4 linked regions of the Homo sapiens genome follow. The protein of the gene in region 1 purifies or fractionates together with the protein of each later gene. This does not show direct contact. Each region holds a gene or a part of one and is shown in the gene's direction. Other genes may lie near its edges. The genes, in order: ZNRD2, NEDD1, TNKS2 and RPUSD4.

Region 1 (6,683 bases):
TGATAAATCAGGGGGCCCTTCTGCCCTGCCACTCTTCCCCGCCTTTTGAGCACGGGAGAAATCTACTGGTAAGAGCTCAGGCTCAAGAGGTACACTGGCTGCCAGCCGGGAGCCCCAGCCCTGCCACTCCCAACTGGGTGACTGTGGATACATCTCTCACTACTCCAGGCCTCAGCCTCCTCATTTGCAAATTGGGAATGATGATAAGACCTAGCTGCCAGTGTTGTCCTAAGGAATAAGCGAAATACTTCATAAAGAGCTCTTAACACAGTGCCTGGCCCAAAGAAAACACACACACCAAGTTGAGTGTGATTATTTTTATTGTTGTATCATCCAGCCACTTCCTGTTTCACAGAAATGTCAAGGTGATTCACATTGCAGTGAAAACCAAAAAAAAAAAAAAAAAAAAAAGAATAGCTGACCCCTTTTCAGTGCCTGTGTGAAAATACAAATGATAAGTTACGTTTTTCAGAGGCCAGGCAACATGGCATAGGCCACTTGTTGCCATGTGAACCATCCCCACCAAATCAGCCAGCCCAGGGGGAGCTGTAATTGAGCTGTGCATGACTGAGCTGCTGTGGGGTGCTCTATCACCCAGAAAAGAGCCTAACTACAGCCATGTCATCAGTGCCACAAGGAGGGACCAATTTGGACTGGCTCACATGAAACTGTGATTCCCTTCCCTCCCCCTCCCCCTCCTCCTTTCCCTCCTTTCTCTTCCCTGACTCCATGCTCTGTTGCCCAGGCTGGAGTGCAGTGGCAGGATCTCCACTCACTGCAACCTCCGCCTCCCAGTTCAAGCAATTCCCGTCTCAGCCTCATGAGTAGCTGGAACTACAGGCTCGCACCACCATGCCCAGCTAGTTTTTGTATTTTTAGTAGAGATGGGGTTTCACTATGTTGGCCAGGCTGGTCTCGAACTCCTGACCTCAAGTGATCTGCCAGTCTTGACCTCCCAAAGTGCTGGGATTAAAGTTGTGAGCCACCATGCCTGGCTGAAGGTGTGATATATTGTCGGCAAGGGAAGGGTGTGAAAGAGCCCAAGCCCATTGCTCCACAGACACTGGCCTGTCCACTGTGACTGCTGCGAATAGGTTTTACCACCAACACCTGTGAGCACCTTCTATGTCAAGGACTGTGAAGCATCTGAGATCTTACCCACTTGCAAGCTACCAAGGTAGCCCGTCAGGTTCAAGAATGCTGGCAGAATACAGGAGAGTCCTGGGTCAGAGACAAAGGACTTGATCGCTGTGCAGCAAACAGCATGAGCACCAGCATATTTCCGTTAGTTCCTTTTGACCCTAAGTCCCATGGGGGTGATGCTGATGGGCTCAGGCAAGTGTGGGCACACAGAGCGAATTACATTGTGGGAGAGGACCCTAAGCTTAGGAAACTCAAAGCCAGTAAGCATGGCTGTCCTTTGCTCTGGAGGGAGACACTATCTCCATCTTCCATAGCTGTTCCCTAGATAAACATCTTTGAAGCTGGCGCGGTGGCTCAGGCCTGTAATCCTACCACTTTGGGAGGCTGAGGTGGGCAGATCACCTGAAGTCGGGAGCTTGAGACTAGTCTGGCCAACATGGTGAAACACCGTCTCTACTAGAAATAAAAATTTAAAAAATTGGCTGGGCGCGGTGGCTCATGCCTATAATCCCAGCACTTTGGGAGGCCGAGACGGGCAGATCACGAGGTCAGGAGATCGAGACCATCGTGGCTAACACAGTGAAATCCTGTCTCTACTAAAAATGCAAAAAAAATTAATCGGGCGTGGTGGCAGGTGCCTGTAGTCCCAGCTACTTGGGAGGCTGAGGCAGGAGAATGGCGTGAATCCAGGAGGCAGAGCTTGCAGTGAGCCGAGATCGCACCATTGCACTCCAGCCTGGGCAACAGAGCAAGATGCCGTCTCAAAAAAAAAAAAAAAATTAGCCAGCTGTGGTGGCGCATGCCTGTAATCCCACTCCAGTGGGTGAGGCACAAGAATTGCTTGAACCTGGAAGGTGGAGGTGGCAGTGAGCCGAGAATTGCGCCACTTCACTCCAGGTTGGGTGACAGAGACTCCATCTCAAAAAACAAACAAGCAACAAATAGGCATAAGTGGCCCCATTTTTATTTTGAGTCAGGGTCTCGCTCTGTCACCCAGGTTGCAATGCAGAAGCCTGATCATGGCCCACTGCAGCCTGGATCTCCTGGGCTGGGAGCAATCCTCCCACTCAGCCTCCTGAGTAGCTGGGACTACAAGTGCATGCTACTGCACCAGCTAATTTAAAAAATACATATATTTCTTAGAGATGGGTTCTTACTATGCTGTCCAGGCTGGTCTCAAGCAATCCTCCTGCATGTCCTCCCAGAGTGCTGAGATTATAGGTGTGAGCCACAGCACCTGGTCTACTGGCCCTGTTTTACAGATGAGAAATTGAAGTCCACAGCGATGAAGTAAACTACTCCAGGTGATACAGTAAATAGATCCAGGATCAAACCCAGGCCTGCCTCATTCCAGTTCTGCGTCTTGTCCACCCTACAGTGGAACTTAAGATGGTGAGAGGCCCTGAGAGGAGAAAAGGGACAAGAGTCCTCTTGAGCAGTGGGAGAAGAGGGATGCAGGAAGGATGGGAGATGTGTGTGCATCTCTCTATGTGTTGTCTGGATTTGGGGGGTCAAGGACCAGATTTATAGGACCTTGGAGACCATAACAAGGACTTTGGATTTTTGTCTAAGTGTGATGGGAGATGCCAAATGGCTTTTTTTTTTTTTAGATAGAGTCTCACTCTGTTGCCCAGGCTGGAGTGCAGTGGTGTGATCTCGGCTCACTGCAACTTCTGCCTCCCGGTTCAAGCAATTCTCCTGGTTCAGCCTCCCGAGTAGCTGGGATTACGGGCGCCCGCCACCACACCTGGCTAATTTTTGTATTTTTAGTAGAGAAGGGGTTTCACTATGTTGGCCAGGCTGGTCTTGAACTCCTGATCTCAAGACATCTGCCCGCCTCGGCCTCCCAATGTGCTGGGGTTACAGGCGTGAGCCACAGTATCGGGCAGCCAGATGGTTTTTAGTACAAGAACGACACTGTATTTTAAAATAATTATTCAGTTTCCTGCTTATGTGGGGATATGTAAGGTTGTCATGAGGAGTAAATTGGAGAGATTAAGTGAGAGGACTCATGTAAGGCTCTTTGTAGGTGCGAGGCAGAATAGACAGTTGAGTGGATATTGGCCATGATGGTGACATAGTCGGCGCACTGAGGAATTCAGGGTAGGGCTGGGAGCTGGAGACGGTAATAACCTGGGGGTCTGTGCATACAGGCTGGAGTCCAAGAGATGGTTCAGAGACAGTTCCTCTAGTCAGCCTCAGGCTAGGTGCTGTGGCTCTTCGCTGTAATCCCAGCACTTTGGGAGGCTGAGGTGTGAGGATCACTTGAGTCCAGGAGTTGGAGACCAGCCTGGGCAACATGACGAAACCCCATCTCTACAAAAAATACAAACCAAACCAAACAAACACACAAAAAACGGTGGCTCTATTCAGCCTGATAGAAACGACTTGTGGTACAGGCCCTAAGTCAGGTACGCTGCTGCCCAAGAGCCTGACTGGTAGATGGAGATGTGAAAGGGACACAGGGCTCTCCACGTAAGCAGGAGGCAGCAAGAATGACAGTTCCAGGGGTTCTACGTGGAAGGAAGAGGGGGCCAGGAGGAAGGGACTTCAGGTCAGATTGAGGGGGCATGTGCCATCCGGAAGAGGAGAATGTCGATGTAACTGTGAAAGTCCAAGTCCTAGCTGCTTTTCCACTGCCCTGGTGTACAACCTCAGGCCCTGCAGACTGCACATCTGAGGACCCCTGCCTGCCCTGTCTGGCTTCTCTGAATCTAATAAGGGAGAAGATGCGTTTGAAAAAGAACACGGAAGAGGGAGAGAGAAAAAAAGCACCAAGGTCCATGTTCAGAGAGCCCTGGTAATTTTAACTTGCAACTCACCCAAGAAGAGCCTAATGGTCGCAAGAGTATGTAGGAAGGCCCCAACCCGACCCGGCCCAGCACGCAGCACCCAAGGGCGGCTGGAAGCGCAATGCGCGTGCCCAGTACAGCGCTATTCAGTCTGCAGGCTTTTTGAGGATTTCAACTTCAAAGAACGGTCGGCTTCGGGGCGAACTTTGCTTCAGTTCCAGGCCTCGGGAGGCAGCGAGGAGACAGACTGGGACACCGAGCATGCAGAAGGGGAGTGGTCTTGAAATACGCGGAAAGGGAGAATGCACCCCTCCTGGCCAGCCTTGCCGGGCGAAGTGAGAAGTACTGAGGCCTGAGAAGGCTCCACGCGTGCGCAAAGGGCCGCTCGCTGTGATTACTGGGGTGGCGATGGTTGTGATGACGCCGCTGCCCCGCCTGCGCCGAAAGGGAAACCCCAGGGGAGGCGGAGGCCAGCGGGGATTTCTGAAGCCAAGTGGTCCCCTTCATCCACGACGGACAGGAAGGGCGACCCCCTGAGGCCACTTCCAGGTCTTGCGACCGGAGGAGAGTTACCAAGGAGACGCTCCTCCCGAGGCCTCGCGCGTCGGAAGCTTCTGTCCCCTGGATTCCGGTTGACGGACGCGTCCCCCGAGCAGGTTCTCGGTAGCAGCCGACACGCCCCACCCCGGGCACAGCGAGGTCTGAGGACCACGCTAAGGCGTCACGTCCGCCCTGATCCGCGGCAGCTATGGAACGGGCGGAGCCGCAGCGGAGGGCGCTCCGCTTTGACGTCACTTCCTGTGAGCCCGGCGGTGACAACGGCAACATGGCCCTGAACGGAGCTGGTGAGGACCTGGGCGGCAGGGGTTTGTGGCTGTGAGGTACGGGAGGCAGCCCACTCCGGCAAGACCCCCAGTCCCTATGCCTCTCTTCCCCAGAAGTCGACGACTTCTCCTGGGAGCCCCCGACTGAGGCGGAGACGAAGGTGCTGCAGGCGCGACGGGAGCGGCAAGATCGCATCTCCCGGCTCATGGGCGACTATCTGCTGCGCGGTTACCGCATGCTGGGCGAGACGTGTGCGGACTGCGGGGTGAGGCGAGACTCGGGCGAGTGACCGGGGATGGGTCCGCGGGCCAGGCCACTCAGCCCTTCCCCGGCCCTCCCCTCTGGACCCCATTGCCGGCGTCTCATTCCGGCCCCGTGTGCTTTTTGGTCCGTAGACGATCCTCCTCCAAGACAAACAGCGGAAAATCTACTGCGTGGCTTGTCAGGAACTCGACTCAGACGTGGATAAAGATAATCCCGGTAAGAGTAAAAAATAATCCGGGAGAGGGGCCGGATATGCTTAGGGGGGAAGCGTGGTTAAGTGGTGATAGAGGCCCGAGAACAGTAGGGCTGAGAGGTGACAGTGGAGTCTCTGGGTGGGGTAGAAGTAAAATTATTTCTCCTTTAGGCTCTAAAGAGGACCCTTAACTCAATAAGAGCACCAAGCACCTCCTGTGTGCCAGCCACTGCGCGAGAGTCTGAGCTCAACCAGGCCCAGTACTGATGGAGAATTGAAGCTAGGGCATAAATGTGATACAAAGTAGAAAGTGGATGAGTTGCCTTATAGAGGGACAGGGAAAACACCTCAAGCACAGAAAGAGCAGAGCAGAAAAGGAGATGGCTCAGGGCTGAGGTGGGCCAGGCATCCTGACCATTCCACCCACTTTCTCCTCTTTTTAGCTCTGAATGCCCAGGCTGCCCTCTCCCAAGCTCGGGAGCACCAGCTGGCCTCAGCCTCAGAGCTCCCCCTGGGCTCTCGACCTGCGCCCCAGCCCCCAGTACCTCGTCCGGAGCACTGTGAGGGAGCTGCAGCAGGACTCAAGGCAGCCCAGGGGCCACCTGCTCCTGCTGTGCCTCCAAATACAGATGTCATGGCCTGCACACAGACAGCCCTCTTGCAGAAGCTGACCTGGGCCTCTGCTGAACTGGGCTCTAGCACCTCCCTGGAGACTAGCATCCAGCTGTGTGGCCTTATCCGCGCATGTGCGGAGGCCCTGCGCAGCCTGCAGCAGCTACAGCACTAAGAGAAGCCCCTGAGAAAAACCCTCTAGAAAAACAGCTGTTCCTCTGTGTGGTTTGTTTTTTTCCTGGTTCCAAGTGTGCATGCCAGCCCCAGCTCCACTCACCTTTTTCCAGCTTTTGGCCTCTTCACCTCTCCACTCTGCTCTCCTTGACGCCCTGAGATGAGTTGAGCTTGTTTCTTCTCAGTTTCCCCAGTCAGGATGAGGGAGTAGGTAGAGGACTATGTGATGCCCCTTTTCTAAGGAAGAAGCCATAGCCTTTTCAAAGGTAGCAGCCAGAGGGGTGGACCCTAGCCTTGTCTCTGGCAGCACCTCTGCAGCCTCTTCCGCCATCTGGTGTCCATTCCCCACCTGGAAGTGAGGTTTTGTGTTCCGATCCCCTTGATAGATTCCCCTCCTTCCCCTGAGCATCCTGACCCTATCAGCCTATCCCATCTCATGCCCACCCCAGGTACTCAGACACCGACAGGAGTTTGTGGTGACCCCAGCGTCAGGTGGCACGTTAGGCACCAAGTGTGGACTTGCCAGTCTCCTGACTCCACTGTTAGATCATTTTCCTTGGGTGTGGGGGCGGGGCGGGGCGCGGCGGGGAGACGGGGTAGCAAAAAGAACCGTGAAGAAACCACGCCTGCCCCCTTCAGCCTTTTCCCCCCTCCGCCGCATTTTTCCATCTCCCCTTGAG
Region 2 (6,907 bases), on another chromosome or scaffold:
GTCTTCTATCTCATGAACATGATACAGCTCTTCATTATTTAGGTCTTTAACTTCTCTCAGTAATGTTTTGTAGTTTTCAATGCACAATTATTGAACATATTTTAGTACATTTATGTGTAAATATGTCATACTTTTGGATGTTGTTAGAAATGAAATTGTAATTTTTACTTTTCTGATTGTTTATTGCTAGTTTATAGAATTCTATTTTTGTATATTGACCTTGCATAGGACTTGCTGAATTCACATAGCTCTAGGAGTTTTTTTCTGGATTCCTTATGATTTTACAGTACACAATCATTCTGTCTGCAATAAAGAGTTTTACTTCTTCCCTTCCACTCTGTATACTTGTTTTCTTCTTCTCCTCTCCCTTCTCCTCCTTTCTCCTCTTCCTATTTCCTCTTCTCTTTCTTTTCATCTTCTTGTCTTATTGCACTGCCTAGGGCCTCCAGAAGAATGTTGAATAGGACTACTAGTAAGACTGGGTGTTCTTGTGTTAATCTTAGGAGAAGACATTCAGTCTTTCATCATTAACTAAGGTGCTGTCTGTAGGCTTTTTGTAGACGCCCTTGAACCAGTTGAGGATGTTTCCTTCCTTTGTTTTTTTCAGTTTGTCAAGCATTTTAAATCATGGATAGATATTAAATTTAAAAAAAATGTTTTTGCTTCATCTATTGATATAATTATATGGGCTTTCTCCCTCATTTTGTTAATATGGTGAATTATGTTAATTGATTTTTGAGTGTTAAACCAATCTTGGATTTCTCGAAGAAATCTCACTTGATTATAATCCTTTTTATAAATTACTGGATTTACTTTGCATATATATGTGTATCTATATAATTTTGTCTCCATGCATAAGGGATATGAATTATGGATATTTCTTATAATGTCTTTTTCTGGTTTAGTATCAGAGTAATACTGCCTCTAAAAAATGGGTTTAGCAAATATTCTCTTCTTTTCTGTTTTCCTAAAATGTTGAATTATTTCTTCATGTGTTTGATAGAATTCAACAGTAAAGCCATCTGATCCTGGGGTTCCTTTGTGAGATGGCTTTCTTAATTTTGAATTCAATTTTTATGGTACATATAGGGCTATCATATTATCTATTGCTTCTTGTGTCAGTTTTAATACTTGTCTTTCAAGGTATTCATTTGTTTTAGTTGTGACCAAATTTATTGACATGGAGTTGTTTATCCTATTCCCTTATTTTTGTAAATATCCTTTGGATTTGTATTGATGGCTTCTCTTTCAATCTTGATATTGGTAATTTGTGTTTTCTCTTTCTTATTGGTAAGTCTAGCTAGAGATTTCTCAATTTTATTAATCATTTCAAAAATCAGCTTTTGGTTTCATTGATTTTTCTCTATTGTTCATCTTTGTTCAATTTCATTGTTCTGTACTGTAATCTTTGTGTTTAATTTGTTCTCTAAGTTTCTTAAGAGAGAGCATAGATCATTGATTTTGGACTTTTCTTTTTTTCAGAATATAAACACTGATTTCATAATATAAGCACTGATTTAGCTGTTTCCATGAATTTTTATTGTATTTTACTTATCACTCGGTTCAAATATTTTCTGTTATTATTAATATTTGTGATTTGATTTTTTCCTTCACCTATGGGTTATTAGAAGTAAGGTTGTTTTATTTCACGTTTGGGGCTTTTCTAGATGTGTTATTGTTTTTTATTTATATTTAATACTGTTGTGATCAGAGAGTATTGTCTGTAAGATTTATTCTGTTAAAAATCAATTGACTTGTTTTATAGCCCAATATATGCTCCATTTTCATGTGTATTTGAAAAGAATGTTTATCCTGCAGTAGTTGGCTATAGTGTTCTATAAATGTCAGTTAAAATAGTTGATAAGTGTACAGATCTTCCACATCTTTTCTGATTTGTTTTTCTTATCTGGATGTTCTATGAATTACTGAGAAAATTCTGTCAGTCTCCAACAATGACTATGGGTATGCTTTTTTCCTCCTTTAGCTTTGATACTTATTCTTCATATATTTCAAAATTCTCTTACGTTCACCTATACACTTAAAATTGATAATGGCTTGTGGTTATTTACCATTTTATCATTATGAAATATTTCTCTTTGTCTCTAGAAATATTCTTTGTTGTGATGGCTACTTTTGGAAATCTGTATATGTTTATATAATTCATATATTAGCAAGGCTTCTAACATTTGGCATCTATTGTTCGTTAAACTATTATACAGAACTGAGGAAACAGTGTATACATAGGCACAGAGGCACGGACAAAAATGACAGGACTGTTTCAGGGCCAGTAAGATTTGATGAGGCCGCAGCATCAGTGAGGACAGAGGAATGGAGGTTTCCATTTGGCCCTATACGCTGTGTTATGGCTCTTGACTGTATAGCATAAAGGTCTGGGACAGTCTTTGCAGTCTCATGGTCCCAGGTTTAACTTCTGAATCTACCATTTATTAAACTTGTAACCTTGGACAAGTTACTTAACCTCTATTTCCTCATATGTAAAATGGGGACAAATAATAGCACATACTTCATGTGTTTTTAGAAAGATGAAATTATATATATATTGCATACATACACATTACGTCTATATACACAAATACAGTGCTTAGTAAAGTGTTCAATAAATATCTATTTTTATATGTATAACTAGTATTATATCATATAATATGTATATATTATATTACATGTATTATTATATATATTTTCATATAGTCTAGTCTCAATTTTCCTGCTGGCTTCAATTTTCAGAGATTTAATTAATTGCCCTTTTTGTTTGAAGTTTTCTTTTCTCCATTTGCTCCCATTCTCCCTGCCCCCACTCCCTTACCGTACTTTCTTAGTTCCCAACTTTCTGGGCCTCCTCCCTGCCCAAATTGGATTTCATAGCCTCAAGAACTGCAGACTGTACAATTAAGGTAGTTGCTGCTTGCTATCTTTCTCCTTTTGCCACTCCCCCATGAACCTCAGTAACTTGGCTACGATTTCAATTTCTGCTCTGAAAAAATGCACTTATTAGAATTTTCCAATTATCTGCAATATGAATGCAGATAACTGGGGCTGATGTACCTAGTTCAGAAACACACCCCATGTAGTTGTGATGAAAGAATAACACTTTTTGCAGAAGAAATGCTCTATATTTATGATAAATATTCTTAGCAAAAATTGTCAGTAGAGCTATAAAAGGACCTTTGGAAGGGGCACTTGAAAACTCGGCTCAGCAACTTCCTTTTCCACCTTGAAGTATCCCCTTCAAAAGAATTCCCAAACAGATGATGTTTGATGTTCCGGACCTCGCAGCATGATGCGAAAGAAAGATCATGGGTTTTGAAGTAGGTTAGTGCAGACGCCTACTCTTTGGGTTATTTCTCAGCCTGAGCGCGTTTCCTGGCTTGTAAATCGCATGTAGGAATCCTTTCCTAAATCCACATCCACAATAGTTTCCCTTATTATGGGTCTTCGTGCATCTTATACCTTTCATTATCATAGTTTCACTTTCCATTTAAGCATCTAATAACGTCAGCTTCCTATAGTGCATTGTAAGCTCCACAAGGCCAAGGACCACGAGAATTCACTGTACCCCTGTATCCCCAGGCTAAACCATCACTGTACACTCAAGAGTCTAGCACAGTGCCTGGCACACAGTAAACAGCAAGTGAATGACAAGCAGTTGGCAGTGGCCGGAGCTCCGTCGCTGGGGCGTGGAGAGGGCCGCCCCGGCCCGCAGTTCCCGCCCTGACACTGGGATAACTTCCCCCGCGGCTGCCCAGCGCCGCCCTGACCAGACCCTCTGTACCCCGACTTCTGTCCGGCCAGAAGCCACAGCCGCACGCAGCGCCTCGCCCCGTGACGTCACTCGGGGCGGGACTTCCGGCCGCCGAAGTTTAACAGTCCAGGCGGGAGCCGGAAGCCCAGCGCGGAGCCGGCCGCGGCCCCCTGTTGTGTTGCTGCGGAGAGGTGAGGTTCCGGAGGCCCTGAGGTCAGCGGGCCCCCGCCCGCCGCGTCCGCGCACCCTCCCGATCCTAAGACCCGCTCCGTCCCCCTCAGAGGGCGGGGCGGCGGTCCTTGGGCTTTGCGCGCCCGGAGCGGTTGCTGGGCGGGGGCGCGGCGGCGCGCTGGGCTGGGAAGTGTCCGGGGAGGCGCGGGCCGGGGTCGCGCACCTCCCGGAGCCTTGTGGGGTGTGCTGCCTCCGAAAAGTTTGCCTCGTCTCCACAAGTCTGTCTCCTTTTTTGTCAACCTCAAGTACTTTTCTTTTGGCAGGTACTTGGATGCATTTTACAGGTTAGCCTCACTTGAGCTGTTGTCCTGCAAGTAAAGTGTATTTTTGGTGATTGAAAGTTGGAGAACTTTCATTTCAGCTGAGTGGTGTAGTTGAATTGGTTCCTGTAGCCGCTGTCCCTAAACCCAGGCCGACGTTACCGCCTTGTGTCCTGACTGCTAGCTTTCGACGGGACCGTCTTTGAGGGACTCATGTAAAGTCTCTCCCTTAATGCTCAGTTCTTAGAAGACCGAGGTAGGTGGGCAGATGGTCCTCTTCCCCGCCCCGCTTTAAGAGCCGAAAACAAACATTAAATCACCCGGCGAGTTGTGTTTCCTAAGTTGGAGCAGGTCGTTTGAACCCAGTTTTTCTGAGCCCAGGCCTCAGTGATCTACCCACTACACCCCGCAGCTCACCAGGCCTGGTTACGATGCAGTTAGACACAGCTTGCAGTTGTGGTTTACAGGGCTTAGAGCTCGCTTTTCCAGCAATTCATTAGTTGTTCCTTGACTTGGGAACCAAGGGGGCACGTGTTACACATGTTTAAGGCTCCAAATCCAAACATTGTGTTACATCTCTGCAGGTGACTTTAATGGCTTTTAGTAGCACTGTATCGGATGAATGGAGCATAAGGAAGCACATGAGTGAATTACATTAACTTTTTGTCTCGAGAATGAAACGTTTCTATAATTCTGTCTTTAACTTGTCCTCTGAAATGGCTTATACTAGACGTAGGTGTGCTGTTGTATTGGTGACTCGGGGACCTGCCTGTGACATCACTAATGCTGTGCAGTAGTCTTGCACTTTCCATACTAGGAAGGTGTGGGAGGTATAATTCTGTGCCCTCTCCCTTTCCTTTTCTCCCATGTACTTTTGAGCATCTTTTTTTCTCACTTATCGTTCATTACTACCTGTTGCTCTTTAAAGTGCCTGTCTAGAGCAGCTTCTTTGCCTTCTGTTTTCTAGACTTCCTTGGTTTGTGAAATCACCTTGTTAGAATTACGTGTTTCAGCTGTATGCTCTGAATAAATGATTGAAGGCATCGTAGTCCAAGTATTGGTATAGGGACTTAGTGGCGTCTCATTTGACCATATTGCTAATTTTAGAGTTTTGGAAAAACTGGTGTGACTGGATTCTGACCTGCAGAAATGCTAGTTTATCATACTTTTTTTAAAAATTAGGAAGTTACTTATTAGTAGTTATTTGTTGTGAAACTGCTGTGTGCCAGGAATGTTTCAAGACTCTGGTGTGGGGAGACAGACATTATAAGAACAAATAAAAATTTCAGATAGTGGCTGGGCACGGTGGCTCACGCCTGTGGTCCCAACACTTTGGGAGGCTGAGGCGGGCAGATCACCTGAGGTCAGGAGTTCGAGACCAGCCTGACCAACATGGAGAAACCCCGTCTCTACTAAAAATACAAAATTAGCCGGGTGTGGTGGTGCATGCCGGTAATCCCAGCTACTCGGGAGGCTGAGGCAGGAGAATCACTTGAACCTGGAAGGCGGAGGTTGTGGTGAGCCGAGATCACACCATTGCACTCCAGCCTGGACAACAAGAGTGAAACTCCGTCTCAAAAAAAAAAAAAAAAAATTCAGATATTAGGAAGTGCTATGAAAAAAATGAAATCAGGTATTGGGATATAGGGTAAACTGCTAAGTCCCTTACCAGGTAAGGAAGGGACTGCGTTAGCCAGGGTGGTCAGGAAAGGCCTTTCATAGGAGGAAACATTTGAGCTAAGACCTGAATGATGAGAAGGAGATGACCATGGGAATCTGGGGAGAACATCTTAGGCACAGGGAGCAGCAAATGAAAAGACACTGAGGTGAGAATGACTTTGCCTTTGCATGAGGCAGAGAGAAGGCCAGTGAAAAGAAAGAGGAGAGTTACATGGGGGCCAGGACATGTAAGGCAGGCTAAGGAGGCTGGATTTCATTATCATTACTGTGAGGAGCCATTGGAAGGGTCAGCTAAGAGAATGCGACCTGGCTTATGTTTTAGGAAAATCACTTCAACTGCTTTGGTGACTGCACTGTTTGGAACAAAAATGAATGAGTTAGAGCCACTTGTTTTAGATTAGATTTTGACCTTTTTTTGAGTATGTCTATTCTTAAATGTTTTTAAAATACATTGTTTTAAACTATTTGTAGGCGCAGTCATGCAGGAAAACCTCAGATTTGCTTCATCAGGAGATGATATTAAAATATGGGATGCTTCATCTATGACATTGGTGGATAAATTCAACCCACACACATCACCACATGGAATCAGCTCAATATGTTGGAGCAGCAATAGTATCCTTTAAAAAAAAAAAACACACACACACACACACAAACCGCTTATTAGGTTAAACAACCACTGTCAATGAAACTTTTGCATGTGCCTCATACTGAGTAATGTGTTTTGCATTGCTACCAAGGATAGATAACGTAAAATAGTAATTTACAAAACAATATATCATATGAATGCACTCTGATTTTATCTGTTGCGTTCATTTAAAAAAAATTTAGTTACAACCCACTTCATTTGAAAACACTGCTATTAAAAAAAGTATATTCTGTCTACACCATAGAATTAGTTATCAAAAATTTCTTATTGAACCAAATGGAATAAGGTTGGTAGTTGTGGAAATAATTCCAAAAGGTTTTGGAATGA
Region 3 (6,913 bases), on another chromosome or scaffold:
AATCCCAGCACTTTGGGAGGCTGAGGTGGGCACAACACTTGAGGTCACGAGTTCAAGACCAGACTGGCCAACATGGTGAAACCCCATCTCTACTAAAAATACAAAAATTAGCCAGTCATGCTGGCAGGTGCCTGTAATCCCAGCTTCTCGGGAGGCTGAGACACGAGAATCGCTTGAACCCGGGAGGCAGAGGTTGCAGGGAGCCGGGATCGTGCCATTGCACTCCATCCTGGGCGACAGAGTGAGACTCTATCTCAAAAAAACAAAAAACAACAACAACAAAAAACCCAAATGGCAAATAGACATGTGAAAAGGTTCTTGACATCATTGATCATCAGAGAAATGTAAAAAACATTTTCTTTGCTCATCCAAAACTACAGTGAGATATCATCTCATCTCAGCTAAACTGGCTTTTATCCAAAAGACAGGCAATAACAAATGCCAACAAGGATATGGAGAAAAGGGAACCCTTGTACACTTTTAGTGGGAATGTAAATTAGTACAACCCCTATGAAGAACAGTTTGAAGGTTCCTCAAAGAACTAAAAATAGAGTTGTCATATGATCCAGCAATCCCACTGCTAGGTATATACCCTAATGAAAGCAAATCAGTATATTGAGGAGATATCTGCACTCCCATGCTTATTGCAGCACTGTCCACAATAGCCAAAATTTGGAAACAACCTAAGTGTACATCAGCAGATGAATGGATAAAGAAAACATGGTGCATATACACAATGGAGTACTATTCAGCCATAAAAATGTATGAGAGCTTATCATTTGCAATAACATAGATGGAAATGGAGATCATTATGTTAAGTGAAATAAACCAGGCAGAAAAAGACAAACTTTTCATATTCTCACTTATGTGGGAGCTAAAAATTAAAACAATTGAACACATGGAGATAGTAGAATGATGGTTACCAGAGGCTGAGAAGTGAAGTGGGTGGGGGATGTTTAATGGGTACAAAAAATAATTAGAAAGAATGAATAAAACCTATTATTTGATAACACAACACAGTGACTATAGTCAATAATAATCTAATTGTACATTTAAAAATAACTAAAATAGTATAATTGATTGTAATGCAAAAGATAAATGTTTGAAATGACTGATACCCCATTTACCCTGATATGATTATTAGGCATTGAGTGATAGTATCAAAATATCTCATATACCCAATAAATATATACACCTGTGATGTACCCAAAAAATTAAAAATTCAAACAATTTTAAAAATTAAAAATAGATATTTTGTTGCTAAAAAATGCTAACAGTCATCTGAACCTTCAGCAACTTGTCATCTTTTTGCAGTTGGAGGGTCTTGCCGCAATGATATCGAGGGCTGCTAACTGATAATGGTTGCTGAAGGTTGGGGTGGCTGTAGCAATTTCTTAAGAGAAGCTAAAATGAAATTTGCCACATCGATTGACTGTTCCTTTCACAAAAGATTTCTCTGTAGCATACAATGCTGTTTGATAGCATTTTACCCACAGAGCTTTCAAAATTAGAGTCTATTTGGGTGTTGAAACTTAATGGCAAAACAAACAAAAAAATAGAGCCTATCTCTCAAGCTCTGCTCCTGCTTTATCACCTATGTTTAAGTAACATTCTAAATTCTTTGTTGTCATTTCAAAAATTTTTACAGCATCTTCACCAGGAGTAGGTTCCATCTGAAAAAAATTTTTTTTTGCTCCATAAGAAGTAACTCCTCATCCATTCAAGCTGGTTTTTCTGTTTGTTTTCAGAGACAGGGTCTCTGTCACCCAAGCTGTAGAGGAGTGCAGTGACATGATCACAGCTCACCATAGCCTCAAATTCCTAGATCCCTCACATGTGCAGTTCACAATAGGGTTTGCGCTCCTGTGAAAATCTAATGCTGCTGCTGATCTGACAGGAGGTGGAGCTCAGGCGGTAATGCTCACTCCCCGCCCATCCCCACCCTGCCTCCATCCCCCGCCCTGCACCTTCTCTGCTCACCTCACGCTGTGCGTCCTTGTTCCTTACAGGCTAGGGACCAGTACCGGTCCAAGGGCCGGGGGTTGGGGACCCCTGTTCTAGTTAACTTGCTGCAGCTCCTACATCAGTATTTGCTGCTTCACCTTACACTTCTATATTATGAAGACAGCTTCTTTCCTTAAACTTCATGAACCAACCTCTGCTAGCTTTTAACTTGTCTTCTGCAACTTCCTCAGGTCTCTCAGCCTTCACAAAATTGAAGGCAGTTAGGGCTTTGCTCTGGATTCAGCTTTGGCTTAAGGAAATCTTGTGGCTGGTTTGACCTTCTATCCAGACCACTCAAACGTTCTTCGTATCAGCAGTAAGTCTGTTTCACTTTCTTATCATTCATGTGTTCACTGGAGTAGCACTTTTAATTTCCTTCAAAAACTTCTCATTTGCATTCACAACTTGGCTGTTTGGTGCAAGGGGGCCTATCTCAGCTTTCAACATGCCTTCTGCACTAAGATGAATCATTTCTAGCTTTTGATTTAAAGTGAGAGATACGCAACTTTTCCTTTCACTTGAACACCTAGAAAACCATTGCAGAGTTCTTAATTGGCCTAATTTCAATATTATTGTGTTTAAGGGAACAGATAGGCCCCAGGAGAGGGAGAGAGATGGCAGAGTAGCCTGTCAGTGGGGCAGTCAGAACATACACATTTATTGATTGATTGCTGTCTTCTATGGGTGTGGTTTGTGGTGCCTCAAAACAATTACAACAGTGATTTCAACTTATCACTGATCATAGATCACCATAGCAGATTTATGGGAAGAAAAATGATAAACGCAATCATATTGGTAGTGTTCTAGTCCTAGGTTCGTTCATGCATGTTCATGTTATTGATAAGCACCATAACTTCAATTTCATATGTATAAAAATGCTCAAAAAAGTGTACATCCTCTTTTAGCACTGTAGTGAGTCAACATTCCCCAACAAAAACTGGATTTCCTGAAAAACAGGTTAAGGTAGGAGGTTGGGGGGGGGATGCTTTTCAGAATGGCAAAGGTCAACATGTATCATCTTCTGTAAGTAAAATGTATGTATAGGCATACCTTTCTTTCAGTTTAAGACAAGGGGGTGTAGTGGGGAATTATCGTGTAAAACTACACCAGTATCTTAAGCATGAAAATCAATTATATGCTTTTCTTTTGTTTGTTGGTCAAAGAAAAAGATTATAACTCAGAAAACTTTCTTGGAGATGCGTATGCTCAGTGTATCCAAACTTTAGGCATGTCAGGTACAATATTGATTTACAAAAAGTTCCTCTAATCAATCCTGAGCTAATAACTTACTGTGGAAAGAGTAATTGATCAGAGCCATCCCTCCAATTGGAGTCAACTTCCATGACTGTTCGGATTTCCTTTATTTTGGGGGCAGTTCATCCAAACTTCTATTAAACGGCAACTAGTTCACTTTTGAGAAGTGGTTTACAAGAAACAACAACAACAACAACAAAGCAGTTGCGGAGGAAAGAAAAGAGACAAAGTAAAAAAAACGGAAAAGAAATCTCCCAGGAGAAAGGGATGTGGAAGCTGAAAACACGGACAATTTCCACAGTAAGACTTCCAAAAGAATGTGCAAGATCCGAGCAAAACTTTCAAGGGCTCTTTTTCAGTGTAATGGTAGTGAGAAAGTTCAGCCTGGAAAGCCCAGGGCTTAAAACAACAACAACAAAAAACACAATATGCAGGATCGTTCGGCTTCAGCAGAACCCACCGCAAAGATGGCGGTGGGACGAAGCCCCTTCTCCCGCCGCCGAAGCCTCTCGCCTCACATTTCCCACAAACCCTTCGCGCCGCCTCGCTAGCCGAAACCTGCCCAGCCGGTGCCCGGCCACTGCGCACGCGCGGGACGACGTCACGTGCGCTCCCGGGGCTGGACGGAGCTGGCAGGAGGGGCCTTGCCAGCTTCCGCCGCCGCGTCGTTTCAGGACCCGGACGGCGGATTCGCGCTGCCTCCGCCGCCGCGGGGCAGCCGGGGGGCAGGGAGCCCAGCGAGGGGCGCGCGTGGGCGCGGCCATGGGACTGCGCCGGATCCGGTGACAGCAGGGAGCCAAGCGGCCCGGGCCCTGAGCGCGTCTTCTCCGGGGGGCCTCGCCCTCCTGCTCGCGGGGCCGGGGCTCCTGCTCCGGTTGCTGGCGCTGTTGCTGGCTGTGGCGGCGGCCAGGATCATGTCGGGTCGCCGCTGCGCCGGCGGGGGAGCGGCCTGCGCGAGCGCCGCGGCCGAGGCCGTGGAGCCGGCCGCCCGAGAGCTGTTCGAGGCGTGCCGCAACGGGGACGTGGAACGAGTCAAGAGGCTGGTGACGCCTGAGAAGGTGAACAGCCGCGACACGGCGGGCAGGAAATCCACCCCGCTGCACTTCGCCGCAGGTAACCGGGGCCAGCGTCCCCTCGCCTCGCTCCAGACCCCACCTGCGCAGCCGGGGCCCACAGGTCTGAAACCAGTGCTCCTCCGCCTCCCGACCTTTCTCCAGGACTCTGGTCCTGGTGATCTCGCTCTCTTCCAGTGGGGACTAAGGAGATTAGGGGTAGGGTGAGCGTGCCACACTCGCTGGAAGTTTTTTGTTTTGTCTTGGTTTGGTTTTTTTGCCAGGTGTTGGGGGTGGTTTGGGGTTTTGGCTTTGTTTTGTTTTACAGTATCAACAATACCTGTACCAACTTCCGGTCTTGTTACCCTAGAAGGCCTCTACACACAAGAAAGAGTAGGGGACGTAGTTGATAGACCTTATGATTTAAAAGGTCAGTTACCTCCAAAATTTTTCGTTCTTGCAAGTTCCATTTGGGTTAAGGTCTTGAAGGACTTTGTAAAATACAAGGATGTAATTTAGGAGGAGTAGCTTAATAGGACGTTGACACATTAGCGTTAATTGGTTTATCAGAATAGCCAATCATTACCAAGTTTCTGGAGTGACTAGAACGGGAAATAGGCAAGTTTGGGAGAACTGAAACCTGACTTAGGCTGGGTGCGGGAAGCCTTAGACACACACACATACAAGTTGGGCGGAAAGTGGTAGTATAAGAGAAAAGATAGTGCAAGTACTTTAGCTTGAATCTAGAATTTAAGTTGGGACTAACCTTGCTTCATTCTGAAATTTAGATCGTTTGAATTACATTATTTTAATATTTATTAGGTTCACTTTATGATTTAAGCATATTAAATTTAGTCGAAAAATTTAAAAGAGCCATAGATGGGATATTCAGCTTATTCCCATAAAGCATGCATGCTGTTCACTTGTAGGAAAGATGATGACTGTTTCTAACTTCAGGTGAGTCATGCGTGATTGAAAATGGGAGTACCTCCTCTTACCTCTGACAATCCTGGTTTTTTGTTTTGTGTATTTCATGATTGTTTAAAACAATTTTTTGAAAAATCGGGGAATACCTTTTAAAGTACTCCTGTTCTTTTGGGGCTAGATTGATGAAGAGAAAAGGAGCAGTGAGAAATATTTCCTCTTTCACAGATATTACTTTTACACTTTCTACCAATTGGAGATTTGTTCGCTTTAACCTGTTCCAGATTTTAAATGTAAATACTACCAGGAGGTATGCTTTTTTGATCAATTGCACCTTTGTTGGATTTCCATTGGGGAGTCTTTTAAAAAGAAGAAAGTTTAGGGAACCTAGGTGGGAGAACTAGAAACGGTTTGTGGGCAATGGAAAGAGAAGGAAGAATACTTAAGTCAAACACACCTAGTTAGCCTTTTTGCCCGAAATTTCGGTGGTAAGTGCTGCCGTTCTTCAGCTAATTTAGGTTGTCCTGTTTGACCATGTAGTCAACATTTAAACAACTCATTTGGCAAACTGTCACGATCAACTGATACATAAGCCAAAGGGTAGGGTTACTTAGATTCTGTTCACTTGATCTGTGGGATAAAAATAACCAAGAAAGATCTTAGTTGCTACCTTTCAAGAATTTGGTGTATTAGTGAGTTCATATCTGAAAATAGTAATATTTAGAGGTGTAAGATTATGTTATTAGATCCTCAGTGACCTTGTTCCTTCTCTGCCTTCCCACCTTCAGTTCTGTCCCAACGTTTCAAAGCATATTTTTTACATAGGTTTCATTTTGTTCAAGTTTGGAAGACTTAATATTTTGGAAACCAACCCACCCCTCACAACTTACCCAAATTATCAGGTATAGGTTATCAGATTAAGAGTTAAAGGTATAAAAAGGGAGTAATAAAAATTATGAAGTGGGGGTTCTTCATTCAACCAGAGCTTTTGAAGTCCTGCACTTCAATCATATAAGAAACTTTTTTAAAAATTGGGTTTGTAAATTTAATCTGAATTTTAGGTTCATCAGAGAGAAGCTTTTTAAGTGCATCCAGCTACCTTTTCACTTAATATATGGAGAATATACTTTATAATCTGTTGTAGGTAGTGAGTTATCAGTCATGTTAATGTGCCTGCAAGCATACTGTTGGAAGTTCAACACAGGTGGTGGTATTATGTAACTGCCTGATCAAGCAGTTTCTTGTGTTTGTACTTCAGTCATAGAGTGAGCTATTGGAGGTGATGGGGGACATCATTATTTTAAAATTTTTTTAGCTGATTAAAGTTTGGAGATTTTACTGGGGGAGGCATGTTTTTGTCTTTTTGTTTTGATTCCCAAGTAATATTAGGACTGAGAGATTCGTGCAGACCACAGAAAATGAAAATTAGTTTAGAAAACATTTGCTTTAATTTCATCCCCAAAAGTTAGTTCAATTAAAAGAATAATCCGTTGCTAGCACCAAGAGAGTTAAATTCTGTTAATGAAGAAGATAGTCAACATAAACAGGAATTTTCCTTCTACTAGGTGTTTTTTTATTACTGAACTAGATTGCATACTTTTCTTCTAGATAAATATTATTTAAGAAGTAATTCCTTAGGAGAAAAATGACTCTGTAAATTGTTTCCTTTTCAGTCCGCC
Region 4 (6,969 bases), about 61 Mb from region 1:
CCCGAGTAGCTGGGACTACAGGTGCCTGCCACCACGCCCAGCTAATTTTTGTATTTTTAGTAGAGACAGGGTTTCACCGTGTTAGCCAGGATGCTCTCCATCTCCTGATCTCGTGATCCGCCCACCTCGGCCTCCCAAAGTGCTAGGGTTACAGGCGTAAGCCACCGCGCCTGGCCAGAAATCTTAAAAGTATATTCCAACACCACTCAATGAAGTAACCTCCAAACATAAACATTAGCTCAGTGGCAAAAAGTTAAATTCTGGGGACAAGAGCAGAATCCAGTTTCTTAGTATCAATGCTAAATGTATTCAAGATAAATCTGAAATAAATCCCACTAATTCGGGCTGAAAGAGAAGTATTTCAGTATCAGTGGAAAATCTTCATAGACTAGAAACAGAGTTGCAAAAATCTTTCAAATGACAAAAAACTGAAGCCCAAATTATTTGTTCAAGTACGCAGCGGCTGAACTGGAACTAGTCCCACATCTCCTGGCTCCCAATGACTGTACTTTCCAGGGCACCTCCCAAGAGTTCCTGCTAATTGCCTCCTTTAATCTCTCTAAAACCATAAAACAATGTCCAAGTACTTCCTGCTCTTCAAGGAAATGGAATCGCTGGTTAATCTGCAACTAGCAAATCACAGTTTGAGGAGGCGTAACTTAACTTTATACCACTAATTAACCTTAAATTTGTGATAAACGCAAGTTCCTTTATTAGTTAGTCCTTGTTTGTTTATATTTGCGAAATACTAATGCAGCCTTTTTGTTCCTGAATAGACTAGGAAATATCTTTAAAAAGAAACTATCAAGTTCTTCTTTATATGGTTACTTTAGGGGCACATATTATGATATATCAAAATCAATGTAAATAAGTCATGTTTGAACAGAGCCGTAGTCTGCAAGAATGAAGAAATCACTAATAGAATTTCCTTCCTTGTTCTAAGAAAACATTTAGACAAGAGGAGTTCCCAACAAATGGACTGTGACATTGGCGCAGAAGTGGAAAAGTGAACTGCCTAAAAAAGGACCAGCTGAATGAGGAACAGGGAGGAGGCAATATAGAGGTAAAAAAAAAAAAACAAAAAAAAAACAAAAAAAAAAAACAGAAACAAAAGAGTTTTTTGCAGTGGCAGTATTGCAGCCAATGAGGTTTATCTGAGGGGTGATTATTGCTCTTTGAAAATTGGAAAAAAAAAAAAAAAAAAGACATGACATTTGCATAAATTCTTTTTTTTTTTTTTGAGATGGAGTCTTGCTGTGTTGCCCAGACTGGAGTGCAGTGATGCGATCTCGGCTCACTGCAAGCTCCGCCTCCCGGGTTCACGCCATTCTCCCGCCTCAGCCTCCCGAGTAGCTGGGATTACAGGCGCCTGCCACCGCGCCTGGCTAATTTTTTTTTTGTATTTTTAGTAGAGACGGGGGTTTCACCATGTTAGCCAGGATGGTCTCGATCTCCTGACCTCGTGATCTGCCCGCCTCAGCCTCCCAAAGTGCTGGGATTACAGGCGTGGGCCACCGCGCCCGGCCACATAAATTCTTTATACTGAGAACAACTCTACTTTAAATCACCAAGTGCCTAGACTCACCGGAGAAACATTAAGGATGTCATAACTTATGTACCCATACTGGCTAAAGCTGCACTGTCATACCAAACAAAAACTTTGAATTCTTTAAATTTCTCTACAAAGTTTCAACAAGACAAACCTAAAAGTTCCTTCTCCAGAAAAAAGGGACCAATATTTTTATTCTTAAGTCACTAAGTGTGTGCTTTGAGTTAACCTGAAACCCTAGAGCATAAGCTCTGTGTCACTAGCAATGACATTTGAGTTGGTTCTTCATTTTGTTTCCCGCCACAGAAGGCCAACTCTGCAAGAACAGGTGTAGTTTCTTGAATGCCATAAGGTTAGGGTAGAAACAGCCTCTCCCATCCCCGACACAAAACCATAAAAGTCCTGTACCCAAAACAAGTTTTTAATTAATGTAATGATATGAATTTAAGTCCCGATGTCAAAACTTCAGGGTCCTTGGAAAATTGAGCTTCAAGTATCTAAGTAATATGTGATGTTCAAGTGAAATTAGAACCTAGGTCTGGAGCATGGAAGGTAATAATTCTTTTAGGGTGGAATTTCTCAACTTTTATAGACCTCTGTCTTACTGGTAAATTTGCAGGGGGTGGGTGGGGAACAGGAGAAACAGATGTTTCCCAATCTCCCTTGGAAATCTTTGCATTTGTATCTGGATCTGCATTTACACCTGCCTTATAAGAGAAACGTACACAAGCCTTGCTTCTTTCCCACTTTACAAATACATCTTCCTCTACCTTCATTCTTCAGGCCAAACATTGACAGAAATAAGACAATTCAAAATGTTCAGACACACCTAGCATACATTTATGATGCACTTCAGCCATCTAACAGATATCGAGTTTACTATGTGCCAGGTGAGTGGATTAAAAAAAAAAATTCTTCCAGGGACTCACAGATCAACAGCAGCTGCCAAGAGTACGCCTTGACCTGCATAACTCAATTAATTCAAACTCAAAGGAGTTACAGTGTAGGGGGAAAAGACCAGACCTCATCACTGACCACCTAGATTGTAACTAGTTTTCCTACTATCAAACCCTTTCCTTCCCCACTATCAAACCCTTTCCTTCCCCATCTGTCCTGCATTCAACTGCCAGATTCATTTCCAGAATTCCACTTTCAAGGAGTCTCTCTGCCCTACTCGAAAAGCTTCAAAGACTCCTCACTACGTATCACCTCTAGTTCAAACTCTTCAACTTGAGTCTTCTATGAGTAGCTCCACCTGATCAACTTTGTTTCTTGTTGGTACGGCTCCCTTCTGCCAAACCCTTTAGGAGGTGTAGAACCCAAATCTAATTCAACTACCTATTCTCTAATAACTCCTCAGGCAGCCTTCATTCCAAGCAGTCTTAAAAAATTGTTCCTTCTATCGTCACAGATCCATTAGTTTTCAGGACATTCTTTCTGAACTCAGCATAAGCTTTCCTCTTAACAAATGGCAGGTATATCCCAAGTTATTTTTAACACTACCATCCCAAACAGATGTTTATCTTCCCAGCCACCCCTGAGTGAAATCAGAGGGAGTCGCCTGCAGTTCGGGCAAGGGAATCCCAACATCGCATCTCGTGAGAGGAGGTATGGTGTGGTTGCAAACTATGGAGAGGAAAAATAAAGGAAACAGGAAAAGTGAAGGTCTGTGCTCCGTTCTTTCAGCTTTTTCTTTAGGAGGAGTAGGGAAGGTAGGGAGGAGACCCCCAAGAAATGAATTCTTGAGGAAGGGCAGAAAAAACACTCACAGTGCTTCCTAAGTAGGAAATAGGTGCTGGGGGCCCTGGATAAGGGAAGGGGCCGTCATCCTTAGGAGAAGGGTACAGGTTACAACGCGAAACAAAGAGGCTGGGAGTTGGAAGATGAAGGGTGGAGAGACTACAGAGATCCGGGCATCCGATCAAGAGGGTCCCCGACGCGTCCCGCAGGGGACTGGCGGATCACCGGAGATTCAGTGGCTAAGAGGGACGGCGTCGGTGCCTAGGAGGGCTCTGGGGCGAGCGTTTATGGGACATCGCTCCTAAGGGGGCGCGGGGGCGGGGAGGAGTTTTTGAGTGGGATCGTGTACCAAAAGGAGAAACGTTTCTCAGACCAGTGCTCTTCTTGAACGGAAATCCCGGGGACGCAGAAAACGTTAAACCGTTGAGGCACCGGCATTTCCCAGCCCCAGCCCGGCTTCCCTACACACTCACCGAGTCTCCTCCAAACGCCACTGCTCCAGCTGCAGCTACCGGCCGGCGCAGCCGCACTGAGCGCGCACCGTCCCCACGTGACTCGCCCAGGCCCCACCCCGCACCACGTGACCTGCAGGGCCCACCCACTCCCGCCTCATTGTAGTCGCCCTTCTCCACGTGGTCTTGGCTCGCCCCGCCCTTCCTTGTAAGATGGCGGCGCCCAGGTGGAGCGCGTCGGGCCCCTGGATCCGGGGAAACGGCCAAGGTTGCGGGAGTCTCTTCACTCTCGTCTCAAAGCCATTTTGTGCCGCTGCCGCTGCCTCTACGGCCATAAATGCCCAGAGATTAGCGGAGAAGCTCCGAGCCCAGAAACGGGAACAAGACACAAAGAAGGAGCCGGTGAGTCCAAAGGGACCAGAACTCCCTAGAGGCAGTGCGCTCATTGGTTTCCCAGACGGGGAGTAGGTAGGAGGGTCCTCTGAGTGAAAGCGTGTGAGTCAATAGCCCGGACGCAAGGTGGGAGAATGGGGAGAAGGCGGAGGGGAGGGGTCAGTAAGGGTACGGTGTTTTCCCGTGAGCTGGATCTTTGGCTACTGTCAGGCTCAGTCCTAACCACTGCGTCGGTACGCAGGTTAGACAGATGGGTATCTCTGCTCTCAAATTAGTCGAAGGCGGCGCGGGTCTGATGCAAAGATAGTCATTCCCTACTCAGATTCTCACCCAGACCTTTATGGAAGGTCTTCTCCACGGCTTCCGCACCAGGCATTCCCCACGGCTCCTTCTTTCTCCCTAGGTGTCCACAAACGCTGTTCAGCGGAGAGTGCAAGAAATAGTGCGGTTCACACGGCAGCTGCAGCGAGTCCACCCCAACGTGCTTGCTAAGGCACTGACCCGAGGAATTCTCCACCAGGACAAGAACCTTGTGGTCATCAATAAGCCCTACGGTCTCCCTGTGCATGGTAAGGACCACGCGGGAAAGGTGGAGGAACCTGCAGCTGCTTTCTGCTACAACCGAGGAAAACTGAGACGTTACTTGTGGTGCACTCTAAAGCCTTGCATTCAAATTAATTAAACTTTTGTAAACTACCGTCCAATATAAGGAACCACCGAGAACACAGAAATAAATAAATAAGACAGTCCTCCCTTTCTAAACATCTGACAGTAAGCAATTCGTAGAATACGCTGTGTGCAGACTACAGGGATCGCTGTAGAGATATACAAAGGCTGTGTGGTTCTAGACTAAAGGTTATCTTCCATCAGAACTGGGAATGAGAAAATGATACATAAGAAAAAAGGGGGTGTGTGTGTGTGTGTGTGTGTGTGTGTGTATGTATGTTGGAGTATATGTAACATACAACCCCAGAGTGACTGGAATTTAGTGGACCTTCAAATGTCTTTCAACAGATGTTGCATGTAGTTGTCAGGGACAGCTGAAGTGAATCAGGAAAGATTGATTTAAAAAATGCATTTGTGAAAGAGGGAAAAGGCCCATTTTAGCTAGAAGAAGGTAATGCTTTTTGGGGAGATACGGAGATAGTTGTTCACAAAGACAAGGAATTAAATCACATCACCAAGTGTTTGTATAATTTTTTTCTCTCTTTATTTTCGCAACAGTTTTTTGCCTTTCCATTCCCCAATGAAGTTGTTTTCCAGATATTTACATTTTATAACGAGAAAGCAAAGTTGGAAAGAGAAGTAATGTGTCCAAGGTCAAAAAAATGGCTAGTAAGAAGAGTAGAGTAGAACCCCAGGAATGTCTAACCCCGAAGTCTATCCTCCTAATCACTCTTATTTAATGCTTCTCGAAGGCCTCATGGTTTTTCAAAGTATGTCTGAGAGGAAGCCACATGCTCTAGAATGGTGTTTCTCAAACTTTAATATGCTTCTGAATCACTTGGGCAGCTTGTAAAATGCAGATTCTGACTGAGTAGTCTAGGTTGAGAGCCTGAGATTCACTTCTAATAAGCTCCCTAGACATGCCATTGTTGCTAGTCTCTGGACCACACTTCAGTAGTAAGGCTCTAGAAAATATTGACAGTTTATCCATTAAGGGCTTTTCTCCCAAGGAGAGTTCTTTGGCGAGATCTTTTCCTGGCCGCTCAAACCTTTGGCTTTTTCCTTCTTAGGTGGCCCTGGGGTCCAGCTCTGCATCACTGATGTACTACCTATCCTGGCAAAGATGCTTCATGGCCACAAGGCAGAGCCCTTGCATCTGTGCCACCGGCTGGACAAGGAAACCACAGGTGTAATGGTGTTGGCTTGGGACAAGGACATGGCACATCAAGTCCAAGAGTTGTTTAGAACCCGTCAGGTGGTGAAGAAGTACTGGTATGAGGCCTGCTGATGGCAGTAGAGGTGGTATAAGTGGAGGCATTTCTTTCACCTATTTATTCATTAAAAACAGAAACTCCCATTAATAGAAGGCACTGCACTATGACCTGCGAGATTGTAAAAAATATGTGAAACAGCTTTGGTGCTTAGAATATTAAGTCTGATAGAACAGTGGTTCTTAATTCTGGTATACATCAAAATTATCAAAAATTAATTATACAAGCATGGGGTGGACATGGTGGCTCACGCCTGTAATCACAGCACTTTGAGAGGCAGAGGTGGGAGGATCACTTTAGGCCAAGAGTCGGAGAACAGCCTGGGCAACATAGTGACACCTTTTCTCTATAAAAAGTAAGAAGTTAGTCCGGTATAGTGGCACATACCTGTAGTCCCAGCTACTTGGGAGGCCAGGGTGGGAGGATCACTTGAGCCCAGGAGTTTGAGGTTACAGTGAGCTATGATCACACCACTGCACTCCAGCCTGGGTGACAGAGTGAGATCCTGTCTCTAAAGAAAAAAAAATTAATTAATTATACAAGTAATATATGATTTTATTCCCATGCTAAAAATAGTCAAACAACAAAGATCATGTGAAAAACTCCTGGAGAATCCACCCATTCTGCCATTCTAGTGTTTTCTCTTGAGGTAACAACCCATGTAATCAGTTTGGTTTTTTTTCCTCTGGTTCTTACTCAACGCATTTACATATATGTCTAGTGTATACAGTATACGCGTGTGCGGCGTACGCAGTATACGCGTGTCCGGCATACGCAGAATATGCGTGTCTGGTGTACGCAGTATATGCGTGTCTGGTGTATGCAGTATATGCATGTGTACATATGTATGTACACATATATATCTATATATATATCACATTGTACAATTTACATTATA

The links.
Region 2: the proteins of ZNRD2 (region 1) and NEDD1 purify together in Homo sapiens (co-immunoprecipitation; 3 studies listed by BioGRID and IntAct, with this or other methods). This does not show direct contact.
Region 3: the proteins of ZNRD2 (region 1) and TNKS2 purify together in Homo sapiens (co-immunoprecipitation; 3 studies listed by BioGRID and IntAct, with this or other methods). This does not show direct contact.
Region 4: the proteins of ZNRD2 (region 1) and RPUSD4 purify together in Homo sapiens (co-immunoprecipitation; 3 studies listed by BioGRID and IntAct, with this or other methods). This does not show direct contact.

What each region holds. Positions count from the first base shown.
Region 1 is NC_000011.10:65,565,731-65,572,413, forward strand, and holds ZNRD2 (protein ZNRD2), read left to right. Parts: upstream 1-4,746; 5' UTR 4,747-4,761; coding exon 4,762-4,780; exon of another isoform or gene 4,781-4,873; coding exon 4,874-5,025; intron 5,026-5,155; coding exon 5,156-5,240; intron 5,241-5,660; coding exon 5,661-6,004; 3' UTR 6,005-6,158; downstream 6,159-6,683. UniProt on the Homo sapiens protein: Might play a role in mitosis. Antigenic molecule. Could be a centromere-associated protein. May induce anti-centromere antibodies.
Region 2 is NC_000012.12:96,903,350-96,910,256, forward strand, and holds the start of NEDD1 (protein NEDD1), read left to right. Parts: upstream 1-3,907; 5' UTR 3,908-3,951; intron 3,952-4,116; exon of another isoform or gene 4,117-4,254; 5' UTR 4,255-4,262; coding exon of another isoform or gene 4,263-4,275; 5' UTR 4,276-4,507; intron 4,508-6,402; coding exon of another isoform or gene 6,403-6,410; coding exon 6,411-6,546; intron 6,547-6,907. UniProt on the Homo sapiens protein: Required for mitosis progression. Promotes the nucleation of microtubules from the spindle.
Region 3 is NC_000010.11:91,794,519-91,801,431, forward strand, and holds the start of TNKS2 (poly [ADP-ribose] polymerase tankyrase-2), read left to right. Parts: upstream 1-3,907; 5' UTR 3,908-4,172; coding exon 4,173-4,371; coding exon of another isoform or gene 4,372-4,434; intron 4,435-6,913. UniProt on the Homo sapiens protein: Poly-ADP-ribosyltransferase involved in various processes such as Wnt signaling pathway, telomere length and vesicle trafficking.
Region 4 is NC_000011.10:126,208,624-126,215,592, reverse strand, and holds the start of RPUSD4 (pseudouridylate synthase RPUSD4, mitochondrial), read left to right. Parts: upstream 1-3,942; 5' UTR 3,943-3,954; coding exon 3,955-4,143; intron 4,144-4,537; coding exon 4,538-4,703; intron 4,704-5,870; coding exon 5,871-6,072; exon of another isoform or gene 6,073-6,099; intron 6,100-6,969. UniProt on the Homo sapiens protein: Catalyzes uridine to pseudouridine isomerization (pseudouridylation) of different mitochondrial RNA substrates. Acts on position 1397 in 16S mitochondrial ribosomal RNA (16S mt-rRNA).